Linked DNA regions of Homo sapiens. The protein of the gene in region 3 purifies or fractionates together with the protein of the main gene of each other region. This does not show direct contact. Each region holds a gene or a part of one and is shown on either strand. Other genes may lie near its edges. The genes, in order: ETV4, CUL4A, COP1 and TRIB3.

Region 1 (7,511 bases), on a different chromosome or scaffold from region 3:
AGTGTCTGCTCTAAGGTCACACAGCAAGAACATGTCAAGCCCCAGATTTCAACCAAGGTTTTCATTCCAGTTATTGCCTTGGTCTTTAAGATCAAACCCCACTGTGTTTTAGGAGAGAACAAGCTGCTCTCTTGTGATTCTCTATCCTATGACTCACTTCCTGCCATCCTCCACTCCCTATACCCTCTCCCCAGGGACCTCTACTCACGGTTTTCTGAATGGAAATCAGGAACAAACTGCTCATCACTGTCTGGTACCTGAGCTGCAGAGAGAAGTCAGAGGTGAGTTTGGGGCGGAGCCCTGGTTGTCCCCTGGGAGGCTCCATTATTACAGCCCTGCAGATTAGCAACAGCCAAGAAAGGACCAACAGCCTTTAGATCAGGGGTGTCCACATTGTAAGAATTGTCTTGGGCCACACATAAAATACACAAATACACTAACACTAACGATAGCTGATGAACTTAAAATCACAAACAAATCTCATAATGTTTTAAGAAATTTTACAAGGAATTTATGTTGGGCCTGGGCCGCATTCAAAGCTACCCTGGGCTGAAAGTGGCCCACAGGCCCACGGGTTGGACAAGCTTGCTTGAGACTAAAGGCTGCTCCACCCTAGGTCCTAGTGTCTTCCACCTCTGGGCTCCACTAAGACCCAGGAGGGAAGACTGTTCTCAGAACCTGTCTGAGCAGATTCCAGTCTTTCTTCTTCTAGATGCTTTGTCTTTATTTCCTCCATTTTTCTGAAGTGAAACAGCCTCGCCCCTCAGAGTTTACAAAACTCCCTTAAAGCTCACAACAGTCATATCTAGGATGGGCAGGCATTATAAGCAGTGGGATCCTGTGGATTTAAAAATCACATAGGAGGCGGCCAGGCATGGTGGCTCACGCCTATAATCCCAGCACTTTGGGAAGTCAAGGCGGGTGGATCACCTGAGGTCCGGAGTTCGAGACCAGCCTGGCCAACATGACGAAACCCCATCTTTACTAAAAGTACAAAACTTAGCTGGTCGTGTTGGCGGGAGCCTATAATCCCAGCTACTCAGGAGCTGAGACAGAAGAATCGCTTGAACCTGGGAGGCAGAGGTTGCAGTGAGCTGAGATCGCACCACTGCACTCCAGCCTGGGCAACAAGAGTGAAACTCCATCTCAAAAGAAAAATAAAATTAAATAATAAATAAAATCACATAGGGGGGTGGCTGGGCGCAGTGGTTCATGCCTGTAATCCCAGCACTTTGGGAGGCTGAGGTGGGAGGATCACTTGAGATCAGGAGTTTGAGACCAGCCTGGCCAACAAAGTGAAACTCCCATCTCTACTAAAAAATTAAAAAATTAGTCAGGCGTGGCGGTGGGCACCTGTAATCCCAGCTACTCGGAAGGCTGAGGCAGGAGAATTGCTTGAACCCAGGAGGCAGAGGTTGCAGTCAGCTGAGATCATGCCACTGCACTCCAGCCTGGGTGACAAAGTGAGACTCTGTTCCAAAAAATGAAAAATAAAGGCCGGGCATGGTGGCTCATGCCTGTAATCCCAGCACTTTGGGAGGCCGTGGTGGGCGGATCACGAGGTCAGGAGTTTGAGACCAGCCTGACCAGCATGGTGAAATCCTGTCTCTACTAAAAATACAAAAATTAGGCCGGGCGCGGTGGCTCACGCCTGTAATCCCAGCACTTTGGGAGGCTGAGGCGGGCAGATCACCAGGTCAGGAGATCAGGACCATCCTGGCTAACACAGTGAAACCCTGTCTCTACTAAAAATACAAAAAAAATTAGCCGGGTGTGGTGGCGGGTGCCTGTAGTCCCAGCTAATCCTGAGGCAGGAGTATGCCTGAGGCAAGAGAATGGCGTGAACCTGGGAGGCGGAGCTTGTAGTGAGCCAAGATCAGGCCACTGCACTCCAGCCTGGGTGACAGAGCAAGACTCCATTTCAAAAAAAAAAAAAAAAAAATTAGCTGGACGTGGTGGCACGCCTGTAATCCCAACTATTCCGGAGGCTGAGACAGGAGAATAACTTGAACCCGGGAGGTGGAGGTTGCAGTGAGCTGAGATCACACCACTGCACTCCAGCCTGGCGACAGAGCAAGACTCCATCTCAAAAATAAATAAATAAAATAAAAAAGGAGGATGACAGTGGGAGAGCAGGAGGCTGGTGACTGGGACCACTGCAGAAGGCAAAGGACACTGGCTGAGTACATAGGTGCCTCATCCCCTTAATGTGCAGCTAAGGAGGGGAGGGATTCCCAAGGTTGGTGATCCGAAGAGCTCTCCCAGGATGCCAGGATGGGTGGAGCTGGGTTGGGGAATAGGCAGGAAAACTGAAATACAGCAGCAGCTCATCCATGGCTTCTAACCTGAACATCAAACTCTGATTTCTAGTTCTTATTCTGGCCTCCCCAGAGCGGGGCTTCTCAGGTGGTTATACAGCTAAGAATCTCCCTTGATCCCAGAGTCTTGGCCCACTTTTGCCCCTCTCTCAAAAATAAATGGATCACAGCAGGAAATGTAGACACCAAGAAGAACTTCCTGATATTATTCCAGGAAGAGAGTGGTTCTAGGGTGATGCAGTGGAACCTGTAGCCCGAGGAGGCTGGACTCTCCTTCCCTGGAGACTGCTCTCTCCTTCCCTGGAGACTGCTCTCAGATTGGACAATGGGGAAACTGATAAAATGCCCAGAGAGGTCAAAATGGCTGGTGAGGGGTATGAGATGGCTAGAAAAAACCTCCACACCCCCGGCCTATACAAATACATATCCCATCTCTTTTGCTTCTCTCTAGGCTAAGGCTCCATCATTTCTTACTTGGATTTCACCCACGGCCTCTTACCAGGATACCCTATTTTCATTCTTACCTCCTATGGTCCCTTGCTCTCCACCTAGGTGTCACAGTGATCTTTTTACAACAGAAATAAAATCATTTCTCTCTGTTATTTAAAGCATGAAATCCAAACGCTTGCCCTTGGCCTCCAAGGCTCTGCATGACTTGGCCTTGCCTACCTCTCTGACCTGCCTCTCCTTGCCTGTGAATCTGCAGCACTCTGGTCTCCTTTCTAGCCCTCAAAGCTGCTGAGCTTGTTCCTTCTTCCCCAGATGCTTTCTTGCCTTTTTCTTTTTTTCCTGACCATCAGAGTCTCAGCTCACTTTGACATCTCTGGAGAGGCCTTCTCTGACCACCCCTAAACCAAAGTGGTTCCTCCTGGCTCTCTATTGCATCTATGTTTTGTTTTCTCCCTGGCACATATTGCCACCTGAATATATTAATTTATGTTTACCTGTTTGTTATCTACCTATCTCCTCCACCAGGAAGTTAAGCTCTGTGAGGGCAAGAGCTTTATCTTTTTTGTCATCTGATGCCCCAGCACCCAGCACAGGGTTAGAGTAGACGCTCAGTGCTGTTATTTCTTGACTACATGAATAAACATGCAATAATCGTTTGTCCTCAGGCTGGCAGAAGTCAGCACTGTGGGCCTGAGGGCATGCACTGAAGAGATCCTGACCATCCTAGCCCTTCCCTGCAGGCTCCCCCTCTCCACACACAAGGCAACACTAGAGGCAGGTCCTCTCCAGGAAAGCACATCTCACAGGGGATATTTTAGGTTGTGATATGTTGCTTGGCAAGAATATTCTTCAACAATTTGCTTTAAATATCAGAGGTGCCAAGTGTTTATAAACATAGGCTTATATTAATAGATAGTTGATTTCTTGACAGAAGCATTAGGGAGAGGGAGTTTAACAATCACAAGCCACCAGCAGCTAAACGAGAACTTAGGACAAGTCAACATAATAATACTTTGGTCTGAAGTGACCAAAGACATCAATGAGACATGAAATCCGCTGGCAAGAACAAACAGAAACACACAGCCAGCACACATCTTTTCAGGAGCACAAACACGGCAAAAAGACAACCATTCCCAAACTGGCCTGATTCAAGAGTCACCAGGACGTTGTTAAAAACACGATTACAGCCAGGTGTGGTGGCTCACGCCTGTAATCCCAGCACTTTGGGAGGCTGAGGCAGGCAGACGATCTGAGGTCTGGAATTCTACACCAGCCTGGCCAATGTGGCGAAACCCCATCTCTACTAAAAATACAAAAATTAGCCAGGCATGGTGGTTCTCGCCTGTAATCCCAGCTACTCTGGAGGCTGAGACAGGAGAATCGCTTGAACCCAGGAGGTGGAGGTTGCAGTGAGCCAAGATAGCACCAATGCACTCCAGCCTGGGCAACAGAGTGAGACCCTGTCTCAAATAACAATAATAAAAATAAAATAAAAACACGATTCCCAGTCCCCTCCTCCGGAGAGTCCCATTCCATAGGACTGGGGTGGGGCCCAGGCATCTGCATTTTAAAATCTATTATAAGGAAGTCTCCTGTGTCAGGCTTGAGTGCAGTGGCACAATCAGAGCTCACTGCAGCCTCTAACTCCTGGGCTCAGGTAATCCTTTCACTTCAGCCACCACAACCTTAAAAATAGGCACATTTGGATAGAGGGTAAGAGGCCAAATCTGTCCACCTGCCCAGGGATGCAAAGCCAGGCTCCCCACTGTGCCCTCTGGTCCATTCAGAGGCAACATCCCCCAAGGTGGCAGGAAGCTGGGGTGATGGGAGCAGAGTGACCAACATTTCCCTCCCTCCTACTAGGCAAGAAGGGTCCCAAGGGAAAGGGTGGTGCAGAACTCAGGGGTGGCTGACGCATTCCGGCCCCACCCCTGGGGCCTCATTAACTGCTACTTTCCATTGAGGTAATGGGCTGGGGGTATCTCTTGCTGGCGTCACTGGTGCTGGAGAGCAGAGAACCCTCAGCATCATCTTGCCTTTCTTCCTGCCTCGGGCCTGACAGTTTAACCAGGGACCCCTCCAGGCCCGGAATCCAGGAGGAGGCTTCCTCCAGCACACAGACCACACCCCAAAAGAGGTGGTGCCATCCTCTTCCCAGAGCCAGGAGAAATCTGTCCTAGCTCAGCCCCTCCCCCAAACACTGGCCTTCTCCCAAAGGGGTAGGCCAGGGCCCTCAGTCATCCAGAGACTGTCAACAGGATAGAAACAGGAACACTGAGCCTCGCGTTCCTGGAGAGCAGGAGAATTTTTAATTACCATGTTTCGTCTTAAGTGTACACCACTCTCTTTATTTATTTGTTAACTTGGCTGAGTCTTGGCTGCCAAGCCAGTGTGCCAGGGTCTGTCCCCAGCTCCATCCCGGTACTAAGATGGAGTTTATCTGTCTGGGGACGAGGCAGATGATTAAGGAGGGGGTGGGAAAAGTGCCAAGACAGCATAATGCCCAGAGAGAGAGAAAGAATTTTAGGGACTCTCCTTTCAAAAAGGGGGGTTAGTAAAAAAAGAGGAGGGGCTTGGGGGGTCTCCCAAGCTGGATTCTGGAAGAACTGAGAGGTTAAAACAGAGATACACTGAAGCTCACCATAGGTTAGCCACCCACACTACATATGCTCGGTCACCCTCTTCCCAGGATCCAGTCATAGGGTGAAGGGGGTAGAGGCATTCTCCAGAGCTTCTGCTCCATTGTGTCACCGCTGTCCCTTACCCTGCCCCCACCCTGGCAGCCTCTGTACTGGAAGGAACCAGTTCACTAGTTGTGGAGGGGACATATTTGTCCCCAAGAGTCTTCAGGAAGGGGAAGAGACAGAAAGATGGAGAAGGAGGCATTGTAGCTGGGAAAGATTAGGGAGGAGATTAACCTCATCCCTCCCCACAGACATGCCGAGGCACCAGTGTACATGCACTCGGACGCATATTCAGGGATGCACACACCCTAATTCCTTTTACTTCACTCTTGCAGCAGCAAGACAGCACAGGGTGAAATGTGCCCTCCATGCATGCCCTCCACACATGGGGTCTTTTTTTGACCTACAAATATGATTGGGACAGCCAAAGGGCAAAGGGACTGGAGCCCTTGGAGGAGGGTTGGGGAGCAGTGATTCCTGTGAAAAGGGGAGCGCAGATCGATCGATCCCTTTGAGAATCTGATAAAAGCTATGGGTCATTCTCTTCCTAAAAAAATCCATACACCTTTATGTATGGTGCACTTCCAGCAATTTTACACACAGTATCAGAGGGATCAAGGATCCCAGCAACCTATCCATAGGGCTTCTGGGAATCCACAGACCTGAGCCTCACACAAAGGGGTCATGGCCTAGAGTCAATGGCCCTTACTACCAAATAGACAACAAAGTCATTTTCCCCAAGGATTCAGGGCTCCTGACAAGCCTGGAAAGGAACCTTGGACAAAAAACCAGCATATCTTTTACCATAGCCAGACACATATTGGGCTCAGCCTGCCTGAGCCTGGGTCTCCCTGTAGCAGCCTGATTCTTTCCCCAACATCTCAACAGATCCCAGGCACCCCCAAATCAGACACGCCCTCCTAGCCTCACATCATTCACCCCTGTGTACAAAAACCCAACCCCAAGGATATGTGAGCTGCCTCCATAAAGCCGCACTCACACTCACCCTTCAACGCCCGGACGCAGGACACTGAACCTGCAACCACACTGGAATCTTCCTGTATCTGCCCGGCTCCAACCTGTGCCTCCTCCAAATGCTGTCTTCACAGACCCACCCACACTACCAGGACCCCCCTGCTGCTTCTCTTCAAATTGGGGCTTTGGAAAAAACCAAACTGAGAAAGGGAGGTTGGGCTCTGGTCCCCTTTCCTCCTAATGCGTCCCACCACTGGCAAGTTTCCAAAGAAGCTAGTCCCTCCCTGCCACCCCAAAGCTCCCCATGGGTTGCCGGGGTCACTGACCTGGTGGGAAGAGACAGGAGAGGAGGCTGGGGTGGTGTTGGGATGGTGCAGGGGGACAGGGCCCCGGCAGCTGCATCTGTCTCCGCAGAGAAAGTGAGAAGGAGCGATCGGCCTCAGCATCCCCCCCTCAGACCTGGCCATCCATCACCAGCTGGGAACCTGAGCTGCTCCCTCAGAAGGAAGGAGAGGGAACCAAGGAGATCCCAGCGCCCACCCCCCTCACCTCCGCCTTGCAATCCCCACCCCACCTCCCCACCCACTGGATTTAAATGTACAGGGCAGCAGCATGTAACTAACACACACACACTCTCTCTCTCTCTCTCTCTCACACACACACTTGCTGTCACACCGACACTGACACAGACAGACATTTGTACCCTCTCCAGACCCCTGGCCAAGGGGTGGGACTTCCAAGGTAGAGAGATGAGAGCATTTTCCTCCCCCTCCCATCTCAAACCCAGGCACAGATGGACCAGCTGCTGCCAAAATGCCAACCTCAGCCCACCCCTAGCTCACAGCCCTAGGAGCTGCCCACTGTGGGGACTCTCAGCTGACAGGCAAGGAATGAAGCCCGGTGAGCCAGAGAGAAATCAGGCACTGGGAAAGGAAGTCTTTGAGAGCCCACGGAAACTGACACCTCTGCATTCTTCAGCTCTAGCCCAGCTCCAGAACCTCAGAAGAAGGATGGGGAGACGGGGCAAAGCTCTGCCTGTAAATTGGAGCTGGGCATGCAGGACTTGCAGGGTCGGGGATGATGC
Region 2 (7,511 bases), on a different chromosome or scaffold from region 3:
ACCAGCCTGACCACACGGTAAAACCCTGTCTCTACTAAAAATACAAAAATTAGCTGGGTGTGGTGGCGCGTGCCTGTAAGCCCAGCTACTCAGGAGGCTGAGGCAGGAGAACTGCTTGAACCCGAGAGGCAGAGGTTACAGTGAGCCGAGATCGTGCCACTGCACTCCATCCTGGGGGACAGCAAGACTCCATCTCAAAGAAAAAAAAAACCCAACTACCCGAGAGCAGAGCGGGCGCCCTGGTCTGCCACACTCTACCCCTGAGAGCAGAGTGGGCGCCCTGGTCTGCCACTCTCTACCCGAGAGCAGAGCAGGTGCCCTGGTCTGCCACACTCCACTCTTGCTCACCTCTGCTTCGCGCTGGGCCTGATTGTTTGCAGTGGCAACAGGAGACTTGCTCCAGCTGGTGGGAGGAAGGGGCAGTGAACCTGATGGTGCTTTTGGAGCTTCCCAGGGCCCTGAGGACGGCACCTCACCTCTGCAGGGAAGGGGGCAAATGTGGGCTGATGGACAGTGGCACTTCCACCAGACTCTTAAGTGTTCGACTATTTAGTGCATCTCAACTTTATTCCCTTGATGGAATGGGAGGCTCAAACTGCACAACATGGAATCTGGGGACTTTCCCTCCAAAGCACGTGTGGCCGGTCCTGTCCCTGAGAGGCCAGGCGTCATCAGAGTTCAGTATTTCCTGGGTTGATAAATACATGTAAAAAACGTTTCATAATACTTTCCCGGCTTATCCTGCATCCCACACGTGGCAGGACAGTAAATCTCAGTTCTGAAAACAACGCGGGTTGACAGGCCTGGGCTGACTTTCATAAGCAACAGCAACAGTAGACTATTACCGTGGTGGAAAACGCGGTGTAGGCTGTAAACGCTGAGTAAGTTAGTTATTGTTATCATTTCCTTAAAATCTTGTGATGTAACCTTGACCGCTACTACTATGAGAAAAGTGTTCAGCTTTCCATGTCCCATCTACCTCTTCCCTTCCTGAAAATATGAACAAGCGCGCACCATCCCTGGGAAGGAGAGTTTTAGGGCTCTATCATTTCTGCAGTGGCAATGAGCAACACCTGGAATAAAGAGCTTCACATTTGCCAGTTTTTCTACATTCAGTGTATACACAAAGCACCATGAATAATGCAGGTCAAATGATATGACTGAACATAGAATTAAACATGCTTTGTCAATTGTTTAGCAAATACTACAAATTTAATTATGCTAATGTTACATTTACCTTTACTGGAAATTTCAGCTGATTATATAATTCAGAAACTAGAAGATTATGACCAAGAGTCTTTCTCATCTTCATTATTCTGACGATAGCAGCATCAATCTGATATTGTCTATCCTGAAACACTCTCTCAGTGGTGCTAACCTGTTCCTCAACCTGTATAAAAAAGAAAAAAAAAGTTAAGTGTAAAACTGTATTTTCTTTTTATTTTTTGCGATGGAGTCTCACTCAGTTGCCTGGGCTAGAGTGCAATGGTGTGATCTCGGCTCACTGCAACCTCCGCCTCCCAGGATCAAGCGATTCTCTTGCCTCAGCCTCCCGAGTAGCTGGGATCACAGGCACCTGCTGTCATGCCCGGCTACTTTTTGTATTTTTGTACAGGCAGGGTTTCACTATGTTGGCCAGGCTGGTTTTGAACTCCTGACCTCAGATGATCCGCCCACCTTGGCCTCCCAAAGTGCTGGGATTACAGGTGTGAGCTACCACACCTGGCCTATATTTCAATATTAATGACCTGATGTTACCGAATTTGATGGGAAATGGTTTTTTTTTTTTTTTTGAGACGGAGTCTCACTCTGTCACCCAGGCTGGAGTGCAGTGGCGCGATCTCGGCTCACTACAAGCTCCGCCCCCCGGGTTCACGCCATTCTCCTGTCTCAGCCTCTCAAGTAGCTGGGACTACGGTGCCCCCCCACCATGCCCGGCTCATTTTTGTATTTTTAGTAGAGACAGGGTTTCACCATGTTAGCCAGGCTGGTCTCGATCTCCTGACCTCGTGATCCACCTGGCTCGGCCTCCCAAAGTGCTGGGATTACAGGCGTGAGCCACCGTGCCTGGCCGGAAATGTTCTTTTGATGCAAAGAAAGGTCAGACATTGGATGAATCCTACTTTATTATGCATGTTTACTTGTTGTAGTAAAAGGTACCTTCCCAGAATAGCAAAACTCCAAAACCAAAACTTAAAAAATATTTTTAAAAGTTATTTTCCTTATAAGAAAGCTGCAACAACTCTATGTGTGATGTAGATTAAAACTAGCAGCACAGTAAACAAAACATAATGACCATCAGGATATATTCCAGAAATGTTAAGTGTTGATCAACATTAGGAAATCTGTGAATATAAGTGAGAGCACTGTAGCAGTTGAAAGGTTAGATTACATGACCATCTTGATAGATGCTGAAAAGGCATGATAAAATTGATTTTTTGATTTAAAACAAACATTAGCATACAAGGATGAATAAAAAAGCATCTGAACATGATAAAACATGGTTATCAGAAACAAACAGCAAATACTAGAGACAACTTAACCTTAGTCCAACAGGAACCTGATGGGGATCTGCAGTTGAAATGAGGGCTGGGGGAAGGTCTGTGCATACATATGAGGCAAGTATGCTTCAGGATGGGAGAGACTCCAAGCTTTCATCACATTTTCAACAGGATCCATGACCCCCAAAAAGTTAACATCCTCTGAACTAGAGATAAAATTAGGAAGCTCAGCTGCACTGCTATTCCTTAAAAACATTACTTTAGAGGTTCTAACTATGCAATACAGGAACAGACTAAAGAGGTATATTGAAAAGGTGCAGACAAAACGATCATTATTTGTAGATGAGCTGGAAAATCCAAGAAAATCAACAGAAAAACTTTCAAAGCTAAAGAGTTTTGTAAAGTGGCTGGAAATAAAATAAATATACAAAGACAAATAGCATTAATACATACATTCTGATAAAAACCGTCAGAAATGTAAAGAAAAAAGGTCCCCTTTATAAGATATCAGCATTTCATTAGCCTGTCTTGCTTAAAACTCTAGTGGTTTTCCAAATGCTTCATGGATCTGAGCCATCTTCAGAGGGTCCAGCTGTGGCTCCCTGATCAGGCCTGTCTGGCTCAGCTTCCCCTTTTGGCAACGATGCTGCAGCCAGAGGCCTTCTTTCAGTTCCTGAGCAAAGCTAGTCACTTCTTCAGGAAAGCGTTGGCTGACGACAGTATTTAATTAGACTCTCCTGCACTTCTCTATCCTAACATTTTCCTCCACTCTTACAAGTTAGTCAATGTGTGTGATCCTCTGCTACCTCTCTGCTGGAAAAGACTGAACACTCCTAGAAACAAGGACTTATTCTTTATTGTTAATGGATGAATTCTCAGTGCTTCACAGAGGACCTGGGCCACCACAGATGCTCAATAAGTATTTGTTGAATGAATGAAAATTTATGACTAGCAAGAAATATGCAAGACTTACAGAAGAAAACTAGAAAGCTCTGAGAAAAAGATTTGTATGTATTTACATATATACACATATGTATGAATCACAAGATTTAATATGATAAAGATAAAAGCTCTGTAAATTAATGCAATATGGATTAAAAATGTCAATGTTCTTATTTGGGGGAGCAAAGGCGTGATACAATTATTGTCAAGTTCATTGGAAGAATAAAGTTATAGGAATAGCTACATTAATTAAAAGAACCTGGTGCCGGGCACGGTGGCTCACGGCTGTAATCCCAGCACTTTGGGGGGTCAAGGTAGGAAGACTGCTTGAGCCCAGGAGTTCAAGACCAGCCTGGGTAACATGGCAAGGCCTCATCTCTACAAAAAATACAAAAATTTAGCTGGGCGTGGTGGCATATGCCTGGGGCTGAGGTGGGAGGATCGCTTGAGCCCAAGAGGTTGAGGCTGCAGTGAGCTATGATCACACCACTGCACTCCAGCCTGGGCGACACTGTCTCAAAAAACAAAACAAAACAAAACAAAAAAAATGGCTGGCTATGAAATAGACACAGAATTTATAGAAGAGAATTGAGAAACTGACCTATATGAATTTGATACATAATAAGGTGATAATTCAAATAACTTGTTCAAGGATGATATTTTAAATTTGGTTTTGGAAAGGATGGGGGCAGTTAGACTGTTTTCAGATACTAAAATAATTTCTGCAACATGAAAAGAAAGATTTAAATGTAAAAACTTCTAGAAAAATAACATAGTATAAATGTTTTTTAAAACTCTGGTTAAGGGAATTTCTCTCTTAGGCCAATGATATGGTTTTGAATATGTGTCCCCTCAAAATCTCATGCTGAAATGTGGTCTCCAGTGTTGGAGATGGGACCGGGTGGGTGGGGGCAGGTCCCTCATGAATGGCTTGGGCCCTCCCCTTGGTGATGAGATCTGGTCGTTTAAACATGTGGGGCACCTCCCTCCCTGTTCTTGCTCATGCTTTTGCCACGTGAGACACCTGCTCCCCTTGCACCTTCCACCATGACTGGAAACTTCCTGAGGCCTCGTCAGAAGCTGAGGTGATGCTGGCACCATGCTTCCTGTACAGCCTGCAGAACCGTGAGCCAATTAAACTTCTCTTCTTTATAAATTACCCAGTTTCAGGTATTTCCTTATAGTAATACAAGAATGGCCTAATACAGCATTACACGTTAAGTCAGAAACCATAAAAGAAAAGGAGACTATATTTGAGAACTTAAAAACTGTTATGTGAAAAAAAAACCAATAAAAACAACAAAATTATCTGTCAAAAATGACAAAGCAGGCTGGGCATGGTGGCTCACGCCTGTAATCTCAGCATTTTGGGAGGCCGAGATGGGTGACTCACCTGAGGTCAGGAGTTTGAGACCAGCCTGGCCAACATGGTGAAACCCCGTCTCTACTAAAAATAGAAAACTTAGTTGAGTGTGGTGGCACATGCCTGTAGTCCCAGCTACTCGAGAGGCTGAGACAGGAGAATCGCTTGAACCCGGAGGACGGAGGTTGCAGTGAGCGAGATTGTACCACTGCACTCCAGCCTGGACGACAGAGTGAAATGCAAAAAAAAAAAAAAAAAAAAAAACGAAAAAAAAAAAGGGACAAAGCATTAATATCCTTAATATATAAAGAAAACCTACTAATCAGTAAGAGAAAAAACATTATAATGAATGCATATGACTTGAAAAGCAATTAGAAAAAGAAAAATACAAATGGCTAAGCATAAAAAGAGCAGCATCAACATGTATGAAGTGCTTACAGGTGTGTGGCAAAGAGCTTTCTAAACGATTCATTTAATTCTCACAACTTGAGGTAGTAGTATGTCTATTTTAAATATGAGAAACTGAGCATTAGAAAGATTATATAATTTGTATAAACTACTGAGTGGTAGAAAGATGCTGTAAAGAATCAGAAATCAAAATGAAAACTGCAACAAACTATCTTTGGGCTGCTCAGAACAGGGTGAGCGAAGGACAGGTGGAGGTGGGGGCAGACACTGTGCTCTGGTGAAATCTGCCAGACTTCAACTTGGAAAAGAGCAAACTAAGACAAGTACACATTATTTTACCCAGCAGCTCCAGAGCAAGAATCACACTAAAGAAACAATCTAACAAGTGCACAGAAATGTCTGTGCCAGGGTGTTGAACGTAATCTTATTTTCAGGAGGGGCAGTGGAGGAATGTTAGTGCCTGTGGCCGAGGGCACTGCCAGCCCTGGTGGGTCTACACAACCGGCACTGTGCTCCTGCAACAAGTCCTGGCCAGGAGAAGACTGCGATCAGCAACGAAAACTGGCTACAGGAAGGCCCTGACAGGTGCCATATGTACAGTGATCCCAGGTGTTTTTTCTTTTGTAGAGTTTGGGGTCTCACTGCATTGCTCAGGCTGGCCTCAAACTCCCGGGATCAAGCGACCCTCCCGAGTAGCTGAGACTATGGGTGCATGTCACTGTGCCTGGCTTAGTGATCCCACTAAAAAAAAAGTTTACATACACTCACACCACAGAAAAAGGCTGTGACCACAAACAAAAAGGGCAGTAGTGGTTACCTTCGGGAGAAAGAACTGATAGACCTTCTCACTTTTGCCCACTATAAAAGGTGCACCCTCAAAGGAGTTAAAAACTTAAGTCCACATAAAAACCTGCACAGAAATGTTTATAGCAGCTTTAGTCATCATCACCAAAACTTGGAAACAACCAGATGTCCTTCAGTAGGTGAAGGGATAAGTTGTGATGCATCCAGACAACGGAGAATCCTTCAGTGCAAAAAGCAGAGTTACCCAGTCATGAAAAGACACGGTGAACCTCAAATACGTTCTAATAAATAAAGAAGCCAATCTGAAAAGGCTATATACACTATGACTCCAACTGTACGGCATTCAGGAAAGGGCAAAACTATGGTGACAGTAACAGGGTCAGGGGTTGCCAGGGGCTCGGAGGGAGACAGGGATACAGCGACAGAACATAAGAGAATTTTTAGGGCAATGAAACTGTCCTGTATGATCCTATAATGGTGGATACATAACATTATACATTTACCCAGACCCACAGAATGTACAACACCAAGAGTGAACCATATCAGATTCTATTACCATAGAAAGTGTGGATAATTTTCGAAACCCTATGACCATGGGGAGTTCTGGCTTAGCACACAACTTTTTTGTGAATAGGAATAACATTAAGTGGCTTTTTTTCTGATTTTCTTTCCTACTGAGAATGTGAAGTTAATGAAAGCGACAGGAAAATGAGTACTCTTATAAACATTACATAGTGAAATTGGATTATTGTAGAAATGTGCTTCAGGCCTCTAACAGCCAAAAACATTACTACAAAAACAAATGATTCCCTGCTAAACCCCCTATAAGTAAAAAGAGAAAGTTTATACATACAGTTTCCTTCATCTGAATTTGATTGATCTTTATTCTAAACAACTTGTGCTTGAACTCTCCATTAAAAATGAACTTGTCTCCATCTTCCACTTCCTTTCCTTTGGGACTTTTAATCAGCACACGTGCTTTGCCACAGGCCAGGGACTGCAGCGTTCTGCGCAATTCACTATCCTCTGAATGGGAAGCAAATGCAGGCAAAGGCTGGCGTTAAACGAATGAGACTCAACAACAGTAAACCAATCATGCTACCAAGTCTATGTCTTATCTTAAAACAAATACATGCTTTAAGAACAACTCATGGAGCTATGCACTCTGCAGTTTTCGTACCTATCCCCGTGGCCATTTTTATCTCCTCAAAGCTGAAGCCATCTCCCTCGTTGAACATGAGGAGCACCAGTGTCTGGAAGAGGGACACCTGGAATTCCTTCTTCCCCTGGAAGAGAAGGCCTCATCACACCTCTGAAGCTGTGCATGTACAATCTTTGAAAAATTAAAAGAAGCTTCTTTTTGCTCTCAAACTTTTTTTTTTTTGAGAAGGAGTCTCGCTCTGTCACCCAGGCTGGAGTGCAGTGGCACAATCTCAGCTCACTGCAAGCCCCACCTCCCGGAATCATGCCATTCTCCTGCCTCAGCCTCCCGA
Region 3 (7,511 bases):
CTCTAGCATCCAGGGACACTAATCCACCATGTTTGTTAATACTTATAATTGCAAAAAGATATGAGAGACATTGGAAACACTGACAAAATTCACTGCTTGGGCTTATTGACGGCTTTCATTGCTTTGTGCCGCATTGTACTGGCAGTATGCATTAATCAGCTGTCCTGTGCAGTTTCTTGCCTTGCTGCTTAATCACTTGACTAATGACATTTTTGACAAAGAATACAGCTAGTTTCCTACAGCTGAATTACGTATTTCAGCTGTTGATATAAATCACTCTTTTAACAGTTGAAATGTTTCAAAATGTGAAAGAAAAATGCAATTTATGTCCCCAGAAACACGATTTTTCAAAAGTATACTTGTATGTTGAAATTAAAAACAAATTCTGTGAAATTGAATTTGTCATGCAGTAAATTTTTATAAATCTCTTGTTTTAATTATTACTGCTGACAGTGGATGGCAGAAATGAACGTTGTATAGCAGTAGTAAGACTTAAAGTTTGTTTTTGAATTTAATTGCATAAGCAACATTTCAGTTAATTAGTTTACCTTTTATTTAGTCTCAGCCTAACTAGTCACTGTTTAACTTTTGAAGTACTTTTGCTTGGGTTATCAGATTTCATAATAAAAGTAGTTGAAATATCATACTGTTAATATAAGAGGTCATCTGTTTTGTATTAGTTCTAGAAAGCTTTCTGCACCTGAAAATTACAGTGTTCATTTCAGTTAGTTCATGATCTGTTTTTAGAATCTCATTATGTTCATGTTTGAGAATATATATGATTAAATATGTCAGAGATAGGGAGCAAATGTTTCAGTATCTAGAAGTCCTTAAATCCTGAGTCTTAGTGATGTGGAAGTTCTTCCACTAAAAAAGGTGGTTTGAGGGGGGGGACCTGTTTGTCTTTCTTTCCCTTTTAATCAAAATTTTCTAGAAATAATATTATTCTTTATACTTTTTGATTAATATTTCTATTAAAATCTATTTTTACAGTATAAAAGGATCTTGTTACCCCCAAAATATTTTTAAAAACATACTCTACAGGTTCTTGATACCTTAATATATTAAAAACAAAACATAACCAAAATGTAAGAAAATAATAGCAATGAAATCAAAACAAAAAGTTAACTTTTTAATATGAGAGTTAAGAGTTAGCTAATGTCACTAAATAATAACATGTAGAAAAAAGAGAGAGAGCTGTCTTGAATAACAGGATACCAGCAGAAGAAATAATAGACATATTTAGGTCATCATCTTAATTCTTTTTTTTTTTTTTTTTTTTTTTTTGAGACGGAGTCTCGCTCTGTTGCCCAGGCCGGACTGCGGACTGCAATGGCGCAATCTCGGCTCACTGCAAGCTCCGCTTCCTGGGTTCACGCCATTCTCCTGCCTCAGCCTCCCGAGTAGCTGGGACTACAGGCGCCCGCCACCGCGCCTGGCTAATTTTTTGTATTTTCAGTAGAGACGGGGTTTCACCTTGTTAGCCAGGATGGTCTCGATCTCCTGACCTCATGATCCACCCGCCTCGGCCTCCCAAAGTGCTGGGATTACAGGCGTGAGCCACCGCGCCCGGCCCTTAATTCTTTTGACAGCATTTTTACTTATGTGTCAGTTTTCTCCCTGTAATGTATTTAAGCTATTATTTTGATAGGTTAGTGTTTAAACGTATTATATATGTTAAAACTAATAGTTTAGTAATGGCATACTTTTACTGGCACAACATTGGAATGGTGTTGATTAGCTATGTATATGAGTAGGCGGAGAAAAAGTATTTAGTGATAACTAGTTCACTTGAAGTCTCAGCTATACCAAAACCTCCTAAATTAAAAACAGGATTTCAGTTCTGATAATAACTCTGTCCTTTACCAGATAAAGTAGTATTTCTCCTTCAGTGACATGAGACTATGGGTATAAATTGAGTTGGGATAGATGAATAGTTGTCATCATTATAGTTATGGTGCATTAAAATCCACATGGCAGCAAGTAGTAGCTGAGGCAGCAGTTCAATTGAGGTTGTACAAATAAATCTACTGCATTGCTATAGTATCATACTTTACTGGAGGGAACATTTGCTGAATTGTGCCCTAGTCAGTGACACTTAACTGAATAAATTTTTTTTTTAAATTGGCTGGGCACCATGTCTGACGCCTGAAATCTGTAATCCCAGCACTTTGGGAGGCTGAGGTGGGAGGATTGCTTGAGCCCTGGAGTTCAAGACCAGCCCAGGCGACATAGTGAGACCCCATCTCTGTAAAAAAAAAAAAAAAAAAGAATTTTAATTCTTTAAAAAATTATATAAAATTAAGGAAGCATTTAAAGCTGTAAAGAAAAGTGGGCGTATCAATGTGTGTCTTTAAGGGAAATAGTCCTTGTTGTTGTTGTAGTTGTTTTTTAAGACAGGGTCTTGCTGTGTCACCCAGGCTGGAGTGCAGTGGCACAGTCATGGCTTACTGCAGCTTCAAATTCCTGGGTTCAAGCAGTCCTCCCACCTCAGCCTCCCAAGTCTCTGGAGACAAGAACCCATCACTATGCCTCACTAATTGTTTCATTTTTTTGTAGCGATCGGGTCTCACTATGTTGCCAGGCTGGTCTCAAACTCCTGGACTCAAGGGATCCTCCCACCTCGGTCTCTCAGAGTGCTGGGATTGCAGGCATGAGCCACCGAACCCAGCCTGAAATATTCTTAATGTGTCTTTTTCTTACTTACCATCATCAGTTCAGCAAGCTTCTTAATAAATCATTAATCATTAACTGTTCTGTGAATGGATATTAAGAAAATGGATGTTTGTATTTTTGTATGTAGGTGTTTGTATTTTGTGCATTAAATGAATGCTTAATAGATACAGAGCACTAGCTAGGCATTTTGAGAGAAGAAACACACATACATAGATATTGAAGATACATTCATACACATAGATTTTAAACCTTTAAACCTTTAGCCTTTACACTTTGAGTTTTACATTAAGAGCTTTGATCTGTAATAAAGCATAGTAATTATTAGCACCAGCTCTGAAACCAGACTACCTTGTGTTTGAATCCCACCTCAGCCACTTACAGATTGACTAACTTTGGGCAATTTACCTCACCTCTAATCTTCATTTTCTCATCTGTAAAATGTAGATAATAATAATACATATATCACAGGTTGTTATGAGGACTAAATGAGGTAATACATGCAAAATGTTTTAGTAAGTGAATGATTAATGAATATTAGGTATTATTGTGTAATTAATTGTAGATCAGTGAGAATTCTTATCGCTAAACCTCTAGAAAAGATGCTTAAATCATATTGAGGAATAATGTATGTGATGATTCATTTCAACTTTTACTACCTTTGGGCTAATTAGATTTCCAGCTGGTTATGTAACAACTGTGTTTAGGCTGCAAGTTCTGTAAAAGCGAGTATGATCTTGTACTTGCTTTCAAATAGCTTGTTTTGGAGCTTATATAAAAATGATCAGCAAGAGAGGAGTGAATAACGCTGAAGGAAAGGAGATTATTTATTTATTTATTTATTTAACCTCTTTTGTGATATGAGGAATGTGTATTGGGGTTTTATAATTCAGAGAGATATTTGGGGAGGGGGATTAGGTATGGATTTGGGGAAAAGTAATGATAATTCAGTGGTTCTGTTATATGTATTCCATCCCCTTGTCATCACCCAATTGCTTCAGTAATTCAAATTATATACTAATTTATTTATTAAAAATAAAATTTAATATTGTGAAATTCTACTACCTCCACAAAATGGCAGGGAAATAAGTAGAATGTATGGAAAAATTAGTTGATAATTGTCTTTTGGCATACTTTTAGTATATCAAATGATTCACGCCATTAAATCTTTCTCAGTAAGCTGTAATATGGTTATTAGAACTGAATGAAAAGCATGTCAGGTGTCTTGGAACAAAAGTACACCTGTGCACAATTGTGTAGATATACAAATGTATATATTAAAAGTTTTATATTACACAAATCTCAACAACTTTTAATTTGATATGTGTTGATTACTTAATCTGGATATGAGGTCTAGTACAATTTGAAGGTATTTAAAGTAGATCTTTTATCCTTGTAGACCGAATTACTTTAGAAATAGAAAATAGCAAATTCTGAAATGTTGTCATTACATACTTTTTCCCCTTAGTATTGAATTTGACCGGGATTGTGACTATTTTGCGATTGCTGGAGTTACAAAGAAGATTAAAGTCTATGAATATGACACTGTCATCCAGGATGCAGTGGATATTCATTACCCTGAGAATGAAATGACCTGCAATTCGAAAATCAGGTATTTACATTATTTTCTTGACATGATGCAGTATAGATGTAACAATTTGCATATGTAATTATCATGAGATTATTTTACCTTTGCATGACACTTTTTACTCATGGTGAACACTATTATTGTACTATGTATACAGAGTATATATTATTACTTATATCATCTTTCTTACAGATATTGGTTGCTTTTTTCTTGTGAGGTTAGCCTTTTTTTTTTTTCTGGTTGCCAAATTAAAGTTCTTCTTTCACTTAATCAAATAAAGGTCTTTGTTGGACATGGTTGTTGGAGACTCTATGGAGTACTGAATGAGGATTAATGTAGCTTATGAATAGTATTTGAACATCAGGAATTTTTCCCCTAGCCTGCACATATCTCAACATATTAGAATTGTTTCTAGTTTTAAGAATTTTTTTTACAAGAATATTCTGCTTTTCACTGAAGGAATGGTGTTTATGTTTTCTGTATTAGAGATTATACTTTATAAGCAGTGCTTTTCAAACCTAAAATACTCTTAAACACTAACAGTATGTTAAGACTCTACTCCTGATCTGCTCCCCAAAAAATCTCAGAAGAATTCTAGAATCTGCTTTTTTTTTTTTTTTTTTCCTTCTAAACAAGCTTCCCAAGCTGTTCTCATGAGCACTGGCTTTAAAAGAGAATTATATGAGGAAATCATCTAATAATAACTTTGTATAGAACTTTGAACATTTTCAAAATAGCCATCCTTGAACCTTTTTTATCTTTAATGAATGGCATACATAGTATGTTTGTTACAGTCTTTGTATAATTTATTTGTTATAACTTTCTTTTTTCTAGTTCATTTATAAAAATACTATATCGATAATTGGTGAGCTTCCCCATTCATTTGTGGCACTCATCATTGAGAATCTGTTATAGTTTATGTCCTAAGTGAAGAGGATATAACATGAATTAGATACAAGTTTATTGAATTCTTATATATCAGGCATTATCCTAAGTGCTTGGTCTTTAGCAGACCTATGAAATAGTTACCATTATTGCTCCATTTTATACAAAGAAAGCTGAGCACAGGAAGGTAAATAACCTGCCTAAGATTATACACCTGCTATATAGAGGAGCCAGGATTCAGACTGAAGTAGTTTGGTTCTAGAGTCTGTGCCCTTAAACATTTCCTGCTCCTTATTTATAAAATGGAGGTCACAATAGTAATACTTATTTAATAGGATTGTACTTTTAAAAAATCCCCATAATGCACTCAGAACAACACTTGGCCCATGGCAAGTACTCATAATATATTACATAATGAAAACGTGGATTAGAAAGTTTAAATGTGCTGTCTACCTGTTCTGTATTTGTATGTGTAAAAATGTGCAATACTTCCTGATATATTGGAATAAATGGTGAAAGCGCTCAAGGCTGAAAGCTGTGGGCCTGGGGCTGAAAGGATCAATACCTAAGGATGCCTAAAATAGATTCGGAGCACATCTACTGTGAAAGTGTACTAAATTAGCCAGAGCCACAGCTAATAAGTAACAGATCTGGAATTTGAACTCAAGTCTACCTAAATTCAAAATGTGTCTCTTAATTGTTCCAGATAATTTCTACCAGAAATTCTAATTAAGTATATTTAAAAATGCAAATAAACTCTTCCAGTCTCTGGAATTTAGCATCAATGCAACTAGTAGAAAGCAAAAGACCTTGTGTTCATGTCTTAGAAGTTACCTACATTAACTGCCTTCTAAGTAACTTCTTCCATAATATGCATTCCCTTTACTATATGCGTGATGCAGATATGTATCTCAGCAGAAGTTTTTAGATGTTGTAGACTTCTGGAGTACTTGAGAATAGCCAAAACCATAAATGATAAAAGTTTGATTCTAACTTTTAGATGCTTTTAATTGGAATTTTAGTCATAAGTTATAATTAGTCAAGTCAAGACTTTTGGGATGTAAATACAGAAACCCAATTCACTGTAGTTTATTTGGCTTATATGATTTGGCACAACTGGATCCAGGGGGTTAAACAGTCTCATCAGGTCTGTCATTCTGCCATGGTATGCCTTGAGCCCTCTGGATAGTATCACCTTCACTGATAGACATCGTTTCCTCATGTATCAAAGATGGCCAGTGATAGCTCTAGGCTCACATCCATCTTAACAGCTAGTGATCACAGTAAAAGGTGGTTAGGGTCATTACTTGTTAATTTTTATTTTTAAAATTTCAAAATTATTGGTATGTCTTTTCCCAGGTATGTTGTGGGCAGAATAATGATTGTGAACTGATAGAGACCATTTTAAAATAGTGCAAATCTTTCTGAACACATTAAAATTATTTTTATCCCATTGTTATTTATTTTTATGTAAAGTAACTTTTAACTGTATTTCTTTCAGCTGTATCAGTTGGAGTAGTTACCATAAGAACCTGTTAGCTAGCAGTGATTATGAAGGCACTGTTATTTTATGGGATGGATTCACAGGACAGAGGTCAAAGGTCTATCAGGTAAATAAGGGTACTAGTTACATGTTATATGAATCATACATTTGGTTTGTTAAAACTTTTAGAACTTCATGTGCCTTATAATTACAGATTTGAAGTCACTATTTAGTATTTTTTATACCTGTGTAACACCTATGCAATACCAAATGCTTTTTTTTCCTGTCTCCCACTTTTGGTACCATATGCTTTTCCAAAGCATTTCTTCAGACTTCGGTCTTTATGGAATGTATCAGGTAAATTTCTAAAAGCAATAATTTTGGTAAATGTATAAAAAGTTTTGGAAGTACTTTATATCAACATCTTATTTGCTTTTCATTTGTTTTCTAGCCTGTTGTCTTTCCCTCTCCCCGTAACAATAAATTGATATCAGGTTTTTTTTTTTCTTGCTTTATTCATTTTGAGATCTGTATTCTATCTGAGGCTACTGTCTTCTTTCTGCTTCCAGGAGCATGAGAAGAGGTGTTGGAGTGTTGACTTTAATTTGATGGATCCTAAACTCTTGGCTTCAGGTTCTGATGATGCAAAAGGTACTGTTTGAATCTCTTTCTCAGCACCTCCTTCTCCCTGGCCCTCTTAACTGTAATTCCTTTCATCGGCAGAAATACAAATATTTACTCAAACTCATGTCAGTCCTTTGTGATTACTGATTATTATTATTCCCCATGTTGTTTTGTTTTGTTTTTTGAGATGGAATCTCACTCTGTCACCCAGGCTGGAGTACAGTGGCACAATTGTGGCTCAGTGCAACCTCTGCCTCC
Region 4 (7,840 bases), on a different chromosome or scaffold from region 3:
TTTGGGGACTGTGGAAGAAAACTGTTAAGTATTTCAGACCCTTATGTCTTGGCAGTGTCATGAAAAGTGGGTTTATACTGTGGAATAGTGGCAGTGCAGCCACTAACAATGAAGACAGTGCTAGTGGGAGGATAAAAGGTACCACCTCTGAGGAGTGCATTTTGACAATATCAAAATGAAAAACAGGCTGGGTGCAGTGCTTCATGCCTGTAATCCCAGTACTTTGGGAGGCTGAAGCAGGAAGATCACTTGAGCCCAGGAGTTCAAGACCAGCCTAGGCAACGTAGCGAGACCCTGTCCCTAAGAAAAAAAAAATTATCTGGTCATGATGGCACACAGCTGTAGTCCCAGCCATGCAGGAGGTTGAAGTAGGGGAATCACTTGAGCCCAGAAGGTAAAGGCTTCAGTGAGCCATGGTCAGGAACTCTAGCCTGTGCAACAAAGTGAGACTGTCTCAAAACAAAGCAAAACAAAACAAAACAAAAACAACGATGAAAAGCGTGTGAGCTTTGATTCAGCAATTAATCCCATTGCTAAGAATTTATTCTGTAGAGGTGTGTGTGTGTAAGCATGCAAATACACAGTTATTCCTGCAGCCCTTTTGACAGAAATAATTGGCTGTCTATAATTACAGGGCTGGTTACATAAATTATACTTCATCCACACAACGGAACAATGTGCAGCCATTTAAAAGGTTGAGGATGCTCTTTATAGGGTAATTGGAAGGATCTCCAGAGTGAACTGTTAAGTGAAAGGAAAGCCACCATTCACGCAGCTGTGTGACTGTGTGTGTGGTGGCTGAAGGAGAGGGCAGTAGGGCATGGTCAGGGCAGACGGGTTCTCTCTAGAACCCATCTGCCCACCCACTTAAACTCCATTCCAAGGAGGTGCATGCCCAGGTATGGGCATTGGTGCGAGAGACCTCAGCCTGGTTAAAGACCTTCCCAACAGTTCAAGGCAGGATTAACAAGGCAACATGAGTCAGTTACCAGACAGAGGCCCACCTCTCCAAGTACGCTGCTCCCAAATGGAAGAGCTGCCTTGGAAGGGAAGGCCTCCCCACATGAGTGAAAGGTCATGACTTTGGCTTGGTAAGAATGCAGTAAGGAGTGGCTGTAGTCAGATATTCCTGGGTTCTAATCCTGTCTCAAACCCTTTCTAGCTGGGGGGTACCCCTGGTCAAGTTCCTCAAGCTTTCTGAGCCTCAGTTCCTGTAAAGTGGGAACAGGATGCAAAGCTTACAGGTTTTTCGTGATGATGAAATGAAAACACAAATGAAGCATGTAGAGCTTATGGACCTGTTGCCAGGTAGGTGTCAGGAAATGGTCATTATTAGCACTCATCCTGTTATTCTTCACAGCAAGATGCATAAGTACCATCCTTGGGAGTCTTAGAAAGCTCCCCAGGTTCGAGGCTGGGATGACACTCCTTACATCTCAAGGCTGTTCTGAGTCACGCAGGATGATACCTGGCTGTGCACATGCTTTGTGCCCTGTGCAGCAGGAGACTGCCTGGAGTCCCTCTGGCCTGTGCCACATCAGTAGTCCAGGCTGCCTTGGCCCCGGCCATCCCTCAGAGCCTGTTGGGGCCTGGGATAAGCTCCACCCAGATGGGGACAGATGCGGTAACTGAGTCTATACATCTTGGGCAAGGCATTTTGCAGACCACACTGCAGAATAGAATCTGTGATGTGGAATGAAAGCAGCCCCTAATATCTACCTCTTGCTGTTCCCTGCCACACTCGGGACCCAGGGAAATGAGGGCGGGTTACATCAAGCGCAAGCGCGCGCGCGCACGCACACACACACACACACACACACACACAGCCCTCCCAGCTGTCACACCCATGGTCTACCCGAGCAAGGCCGCACCCCCACCCCGCCCCGCCCCCCGCAGCCAGGCCCCTCCCGTGGGAGCCCAAGCGAAAGGCGGCGGGTGTCCGAGTCAGAAGTTTCAGCGGAAATTGAAGCGCGGCCCTGGGACAGGAGGGGGGTGAGGCAGAGGGAAGGAGGTGGCTGTCGTCCCCCGCCCTCCCCGGTCTGCAGGCACAGCACACACCGCAGACACGCGCGCACCGTCCACCTGCAAACCCGGAGCCGCGCACTGGGGAGAACCAGCGGCCCTGCCGGGCCAGAGATCGCGCGCTGCGCCCCCGCTCCCACTCCCTCGGCTCCCCCGCTCCAGGGCACCCCAGCCCTGTCCCGGCGGTGTCCCCTGCACCGCCAACCCCTGCCACCAAGTGCCCAGCCCTCCAGACAGCTCTCACCATCTCCTGAGACACAGGTGCTCGGGACCCACCCTCACCCAGGACTCTCCCCTGCGGGTTCACGAGGACCCCCTCGGATCCCCCGCCACCCCCAGAGTCCTCCAGTGCCCCCCACAAGCCCCTCACCGCACCACACGACTCCCCTATCCCGCACTCACGCAAAACAGACCCCCGCACGCCCTCCTCTAGGGGTGACGGCCGGACACCTCCGTCCCTGGCTTCCCCAGCCCAACTCGGGCGACCCCACGCTCCGCGGGGCCGCGTCACCTGAAGCCCGGGGGGAGCACTCAGCCCAGGCCCGGATCAAAAGGGATCTGACCTGGCCGCGCCCCGACGGCGGGGTCTGTGAAAAGGTGTGTAAGGGGCGTGCGTGCGTGTAACACGCGGCAACACGCAGACGCCCAGAGGCTTCCGGCGCCCCCTTCCCCGGCCGCCCCCTCCCGCCCCCCGGCCTCCGGGCGAGTCCGCAGGCCGCACCCCGCCGAGTACCTCGCCCCGTCGTTCCGCGTGGGCCCGGGCGCCGCCGGGGCTCAGAGCCTCCAGGGCACCAGCAGGTGGGCCGGCCCGCTGCGCTGCTGCCGAGCTCGGGATCCCAGCCCAGCTCCAGCCCTGCCCGGGTCCTAGCAGCGGACGCGCGCGGAGCCGCCTCCACTTCCGCTGCGAGTCTCGTGCGCGCCCGGCCCCCGGTCCGGGTGATGCAAACCGGAGCTAATCCCCCGGTCCGGGTGATGCAAACCGGAGCTAATCCCCCGGTCCGGGTGATGCAAACCGGAGCTAATCAGCCGCCGTCTGATGCCCTCGGGCCCGGGATCGCACCATCCCCCGCGCCGCGCCCGGGCCTCTCTCCTCTGCATCCGCTGCACCTGGGACCCGCCCTCGCTGGCCCCCTAGGGGCGTCTGGTCAGTGCAGACATCAGCCACGGACTCTCCCTATCACCTTGGAAAAAAAATTTGCTCTTTTTTTTTTTTTTTTTGAGACAGAGTCTTGCTCTGTCGCCCAGGCTGGAGGGCGGTGGCGCGATCTCGGCTCACTGCAAGCTCCGCCTCCCGGGTTCACGCCATTCTCCTGCCTCAGCCTCCCGAGTAGCTGGGACTACAGGCGCCCGCACCACGCCCGGCTAATTTTTTGTATTTTTAGTAGAGACGGGGTTTCACCTTGTTAGCCAGGATGGTCTCGATCTCCTGACCTCGTGATCCACCCGCCTCGGCCTCCCAAAGTGCTGGGATTACAGGCGTGAGCCACCGCGCCCGGCCAAAAATTTGCTCTTCTGAGCCTCGGTTTCCCCACCTATGAAATGGGAAGAACATTCCTCCTTCTCAGGATGGTGCTTAAAAGAGCAAACAGTGACTGTTGTCGGGGTGCTTCCCCTTTTTTATAAAGCACATTCCCAGCACTGCCTTATAAAACCTTTAGGAGAAGTGGACATGCGGGAATCTCCATTCTCCACATTCTACTGAGAGCCAGCCTGAGGCCCAGCTATGGGCAAGTGGTTCAGAAGCTTCAGGAAGGCCTATGGACTTAAGAGCTGACTCTGGGCTCAAAGGAACCACCGTGGCGCCCTTGGGAGGCCTAAGGTCTGCTGAGCTTCCCCGCGTCCCTTTGCTAGAGGCAGTGCGGCCTAGTGGTGAAGAGCCCCTAGAGCCAGCTGGCCTAAGAGTGCACTCCACCTCCGCTCCAACCCACAGTGCTACCCCAGAAAAGCTACCTAAAACCCTGCCTCAACTTCCTGCTCCATAAAATGGGCTCATAATTGCGCTCACTTCATAAAGTTGTTGTGAGGATTAAATAATTTAATATGTGTAAGACGCTTAGAACAGTGTGTGGCACATTGCGGATGCTCAGTGGAGTGTAAACAATGGAGACAGAGAGGGAAAGAGGCCTTTAATATGCTTGCACCCAAGGCCTGGGAGGGCTTGGTGCTACTTGATTTGGGGTGAAACACCCCTCTGCGTCCTAGGCGTCCAGCACCTTTCTTTTTTTTTCTTTTTTTGAGGCAGAGTTTCACTCGTTGCCCAGGATTGAGTGCGATGGCACGATCTCGGCTCACTGCAACCTCCACCTCCCGGGTTCAAGCGATTCTCCTGCCTCAGCCTCCCAAGTAGCTGGGATTACAGGCATGCGCTACTATGCCTGGCTAATTTTGTATTTTTAGTAGAGACAGGGTTTCTCCATGTTGGTCAGGCTGGTCTCGAACTCCTGACCTCAGATAATCCACCTGCCTCGGCCTCCCAAAGTGCTGAGATTACAGGCATGAGCCACCGCGCCCGGCCTGGGTCCAGCACCTTTCTTAGAAATCCCTTTTGATCTGAATTCACCAGTGTCAAAAAATAACTCCTCAGCTGGGTGAGCTGGCTCATGTCTGTAATCCTAGCACTTTGGGAGGCCAAGACGGGAGGATTGCTTGAGGCCAGGAGTTTGAGAACAGCCTGGATGACATAGTAAGACCCTGTCTTTACAAAGAGAAAAAGATAGCGGGCATGGTGGTACGAGCTTGTGGTCCCAGCTACTTAGGAAGCTGAGGTAGGAGGATCACTTGAGCCCAGGAGTTCAGGTTACAGTGAAACGTGATTGTGCCACTGCACTCCAGGTTGGGTGACAGAGTGAGATCCTGTGTAATAAATAAATAAGTAAGTAAGTAAAATAACTCCTCTAGAGGCTGGGCGTGGTGGCTTATGCCTGTAATCCCAGCACTTTGGGAGGCTGAGGCAGGTGGATCACGAGGTCGGGAGATCAAGACCATCCTGGCTAACACGGTGAAACCCGTTTCTACTAAAAGTACAAAAAATTACTAAAAATACAAAAAACACACCTGTAGTCCCAGCTACTCGGGAGGCTGAGGCAGGAGAATCGCTTGAACCCAGGAGGCAGGAGTTGCAATGAGCTGAGATTGCGCCATTGCACTCCAGCCTGGGCGACAGAGCAAGACTCCGTCTCAAAAAAAAAAAAAAAGTAAAATAAAATAAAATAACTCCTCTAGGCAGAGGCTGGATGGGAGGCAGGGTGGAGTCATATTTGTTTTCCTGTTTCCAAATCCCTGGGGACCAGCTCACCTGTGTCCCAGAGCCTTCAGGGTATACCAGGGCATTCTGGGATCTCATTTAATCCTGGCAACTCCCCTGCTGGGGAGGGGTGAATAAACTCATCCTCTATCCTGGGACACCGAAATGGTTAGGAAGATCCCACAGCTGTGAGGGGTGAAGAAAGGTGGGAGGGCTGTTTCCTGAGCACCCCTCTGAAGGTGTGCTGGGTTTGCTTGTACATTCCCAACTAACGTTGTTTTGTGCTGTGTCAGCCCCTGTTCTAAATGCTGGGGACTCAGCAGTGACCAGAATGATCCACCCCTGCTCTTACAAATCTTATAAATCAGTGGAGAGATAGACCATTATCAGGAAAATAAAATTAAAACCATGATCATTTAAAATAGATTGCATCATGCATTTTCTTGAATAAAATAGGAAAGACTTGTTCTCCGTCATGACTGAGGGTGGCCATTTTCAGCAGGGCTTATCAGAAAGGTGATGTTTAAACTAAAAGCTGAGGGAAGAGAAGGGGTGAAGAGTGCAAAGATGTGAAAGGGAGACAGAGAAAAACAGTAAGTCACCTCCATTCTGCAGACAAGAAGAGTTAAGGTAAGGGACCTACCCAAGACCACCCAGCTGGTCGTATAAGACTGATTTCAGGCTGGGCGCGGTGGCTCACGCCTGTAATCCCAACACTTTGGGAGGCTGAGGCAGGCGGATCACCTGAAGTCAGGAGATGGAGACCAGCCTGGCTAAGGTGGTGAAACCCGGTTTCTGCTAAGAATACAAAAATTTAGCCGGGCGTGATGGCATGTACCTGTAATCCCAGCTACTCGGGAGGCTGAGACAGGAGAATCGCTTGAACCCAGGAGGCGGAGGTTGCAGTGAGCCAATTGCGCCACTGCATTCCAGCTTGGGCAACAAGAGTGAAACTGCATCTCAAAAAAAAAAAAAAAACAAAAAGACTGATTTCAGATTTGAACTTGGGGCAGCTGACTCCAGTGCCCATGCCATCCTGGGATATTTCACGAGCTTTGTATCCCTGCAGCCTCCACATGGACCTATGGGTATCGTGACAGGAACGGCACCCTGGGTATGGCCCCCAAATTTTGGTGACTTGTCACAGCTGGGTTTGTCAAATCCCAATTCTCTAGACCATTCTGTGTTCCAATAGAAATATAATGTGAGGCTGGGCGCAGTGGCTCATGCCTGTAATCCCAGCACTTTGGGAGGCGGAGGTGGGTGGATCATGAGGTCAGAAGATCAAGATCGTCCTGGCTAACACAGTGAAACCCTGTCTCTACTAAAAATACAAAAATTTGCCGGGCATGGTGGCACACACCTGTAATCCCAGCTACTCGGGATGTTGAGGCAGGAGAATCACTTGACCCCGGGAGGCGGAGGTTGCAGTGAGCCGAGATCATGACACTGCACTCTGACCTGGGCGACAGAGTGAGACTCCATCTCAAAAAAAAAAAAAAAAATTAAAATATTCAATAAAATAAAAAATTCTCAGTCACACTAGCCACATTAGCCATACTTGAAGTGCTCAATAACCACATGTGGCAAATGGCTACTGCTATGGTTTAAATGTGTCCCCCAAATGTCATGTGCTGGAAACTTAATCCCCCAATGTGGCAGTACTGAGCGGTTGGGACTTTTAAGAAGTGATTGGATCATGAAGCCTCTGCCCTTATGAATGGACTAACCCACTCATGGATTAATGGATTTGTGGGTTTTCACAGGAGGAGAACTGGTGGCTTTATAAGAAGAGGAAGAGAGACCAAAGCATAGCATGTCAGCATGCCCAGTCCCCTCTCCACGCTATACCCTGTGCCACCTCCAGACACTTCAGAGACCAGGAATAAGGCCCTCACCAGAAGTGCCCCCTCAATCTTGGACTTCCTATCCTCCATAGCTGTAAGGAATAAATTCCTTTTCTTTCAAAATTGTTCAGTTTCAGACATTCTGTTATAAGCAACAGAAAACAGACTAAAACCACTACCATATTGAGCACTACCACCCTGTACCAAGAATTCCTAACACATGGTCCAGGGGTACAGCAGAGGCAAAGAGTCTAGGTAGGCTGGAGTTTGGCTCCTAGATCTACACCAGAAACACCAAATAGCCTCAAGCCTCAGTTTCTGCATCTATAAAATGCAGTTAATTATACCTCCCTTGCATTGCAGTCATAAGGATTCAATGCATTGGGACTGCCTCATGTCATAGTTGTATCACATTTCTTGGGTTCAAAACCACATCTATTTTGGAAAAGTTACTTCAGCTCTTTGTACTTCAGTTTCCCCATCTGTAAAATGGGGATAACAATAGTTCCTACCTCGTTGGTTTGCATGAGAATTAAATGACAATATTTGTAAAGTGACTGGAATATAAATGCTATATAAGCATTTATTTAGAAGCGAGGAAAAGAATGGTGACCAACCTCCCAAAATTAAATGCAGAAATGTACTCTTTTCTGGAGAGAGAGTCAGGCTTTTATGAATTTCTTTCTCCAGGCTCAGAACATCTTTCTACTCAGATTTCTGAGCCCAG

The links.
Region 1: the proteins of COP1 (region 3) and ETV4 purify together in Homo sapiens (affinity purification with mass spectrometry; 5 studies listed by BioGRID and IntAct, with this or other methods). This does not show direct contact.
Region 2: the proteins of COP1 (region 3) and CUL4A purify together in Homo sapiens (affinity purification with western blotting; 9 studies listed by BioGRID and IntAct, with this or other methods). This does not show direct contact.
Region 4: the proteins of COP1 (region 3) and TRIB3 purify together in Homo sapiens (affinity purification with mass spectrometry; 7 studies listed by BioGRID and IntAct, with this or other methods). This does not show direct contact.

The regions. Positions count from the first base shown.
Region 1 is NC_000017.11:43,536,218-43,543,728, forward strand, and holds part of ETV4 (ETS translocation variant 4), read right to left. Parts: intron 558-7,511; exon of another isoform or gene 263-557; coding exon 209-262; coding exon of another isoform or gene 195-208; intron 1-194.
Region 2 is NC_000013.11:113,254,486-113,261,996, reverse strand, and holds part of CUL4A (cullin-4A), read right to left. Parts: intron 7,305-7,511; coding exon 7,199-7,304; intron 7,045-7,198; coding exon 6,872-7,044; intron 1,391-6,871; coding exon 1,238-1,390; intron 1-1,237. UniProt on the Homo sapiens protein: Core component of multiple cullin-RING-based E3 ubiquitin-protein ligase complexes which mediate the ubiquitination of target proteins. As a scaffold protein may contribute to catalysis through positioning of the substrate and the ubiquitin-conjugating enzyme.
Region 3 is NC_000001.11:176,042,955-176,050,465, reverse strand, and holds part of COP1 (E3 ubiquitin-protein ligase COP1), read left to right. Parts: intron 1-4,141; coding exon 4,142-4,285; intron 4,286-6,647; coding exon 6,648-6,756; intron 6,757-7,198; coding exon 7,199-7,280; intron 7,281-7,511. UniProt on the Homo sapiens protein: E3 ubiquitin-protein ligase that mediates ubiquitination and subsequent proteasomal degradation of target proteins.
Region 4 is NC_000020.11:376,085-383,924, reverse strand, and holds the start of TRIB3 (tribbles homolog 3), read right to left. Parts: upstream 3,166-7,840; 5' UTR 2,756-3,165; intron 2,631-2,755; exon of another isoform or gene 2,425-2,630; intron 1,493-2,424; exon of another isoform or gene 1,380-1,492; coding exon of another isoform or gene 1,299-1,379; intron 1-1,298. UniProt on the Homo sapiens protein: Inactive protein kinase which acts as a regulator of the integrated stress response (ISR), a process for adaptation to various stress. Inhibits the transcriptional activity of DDIT3/CHOP and is involved in DDIT3/CHOP-dependent cell death during ER stress.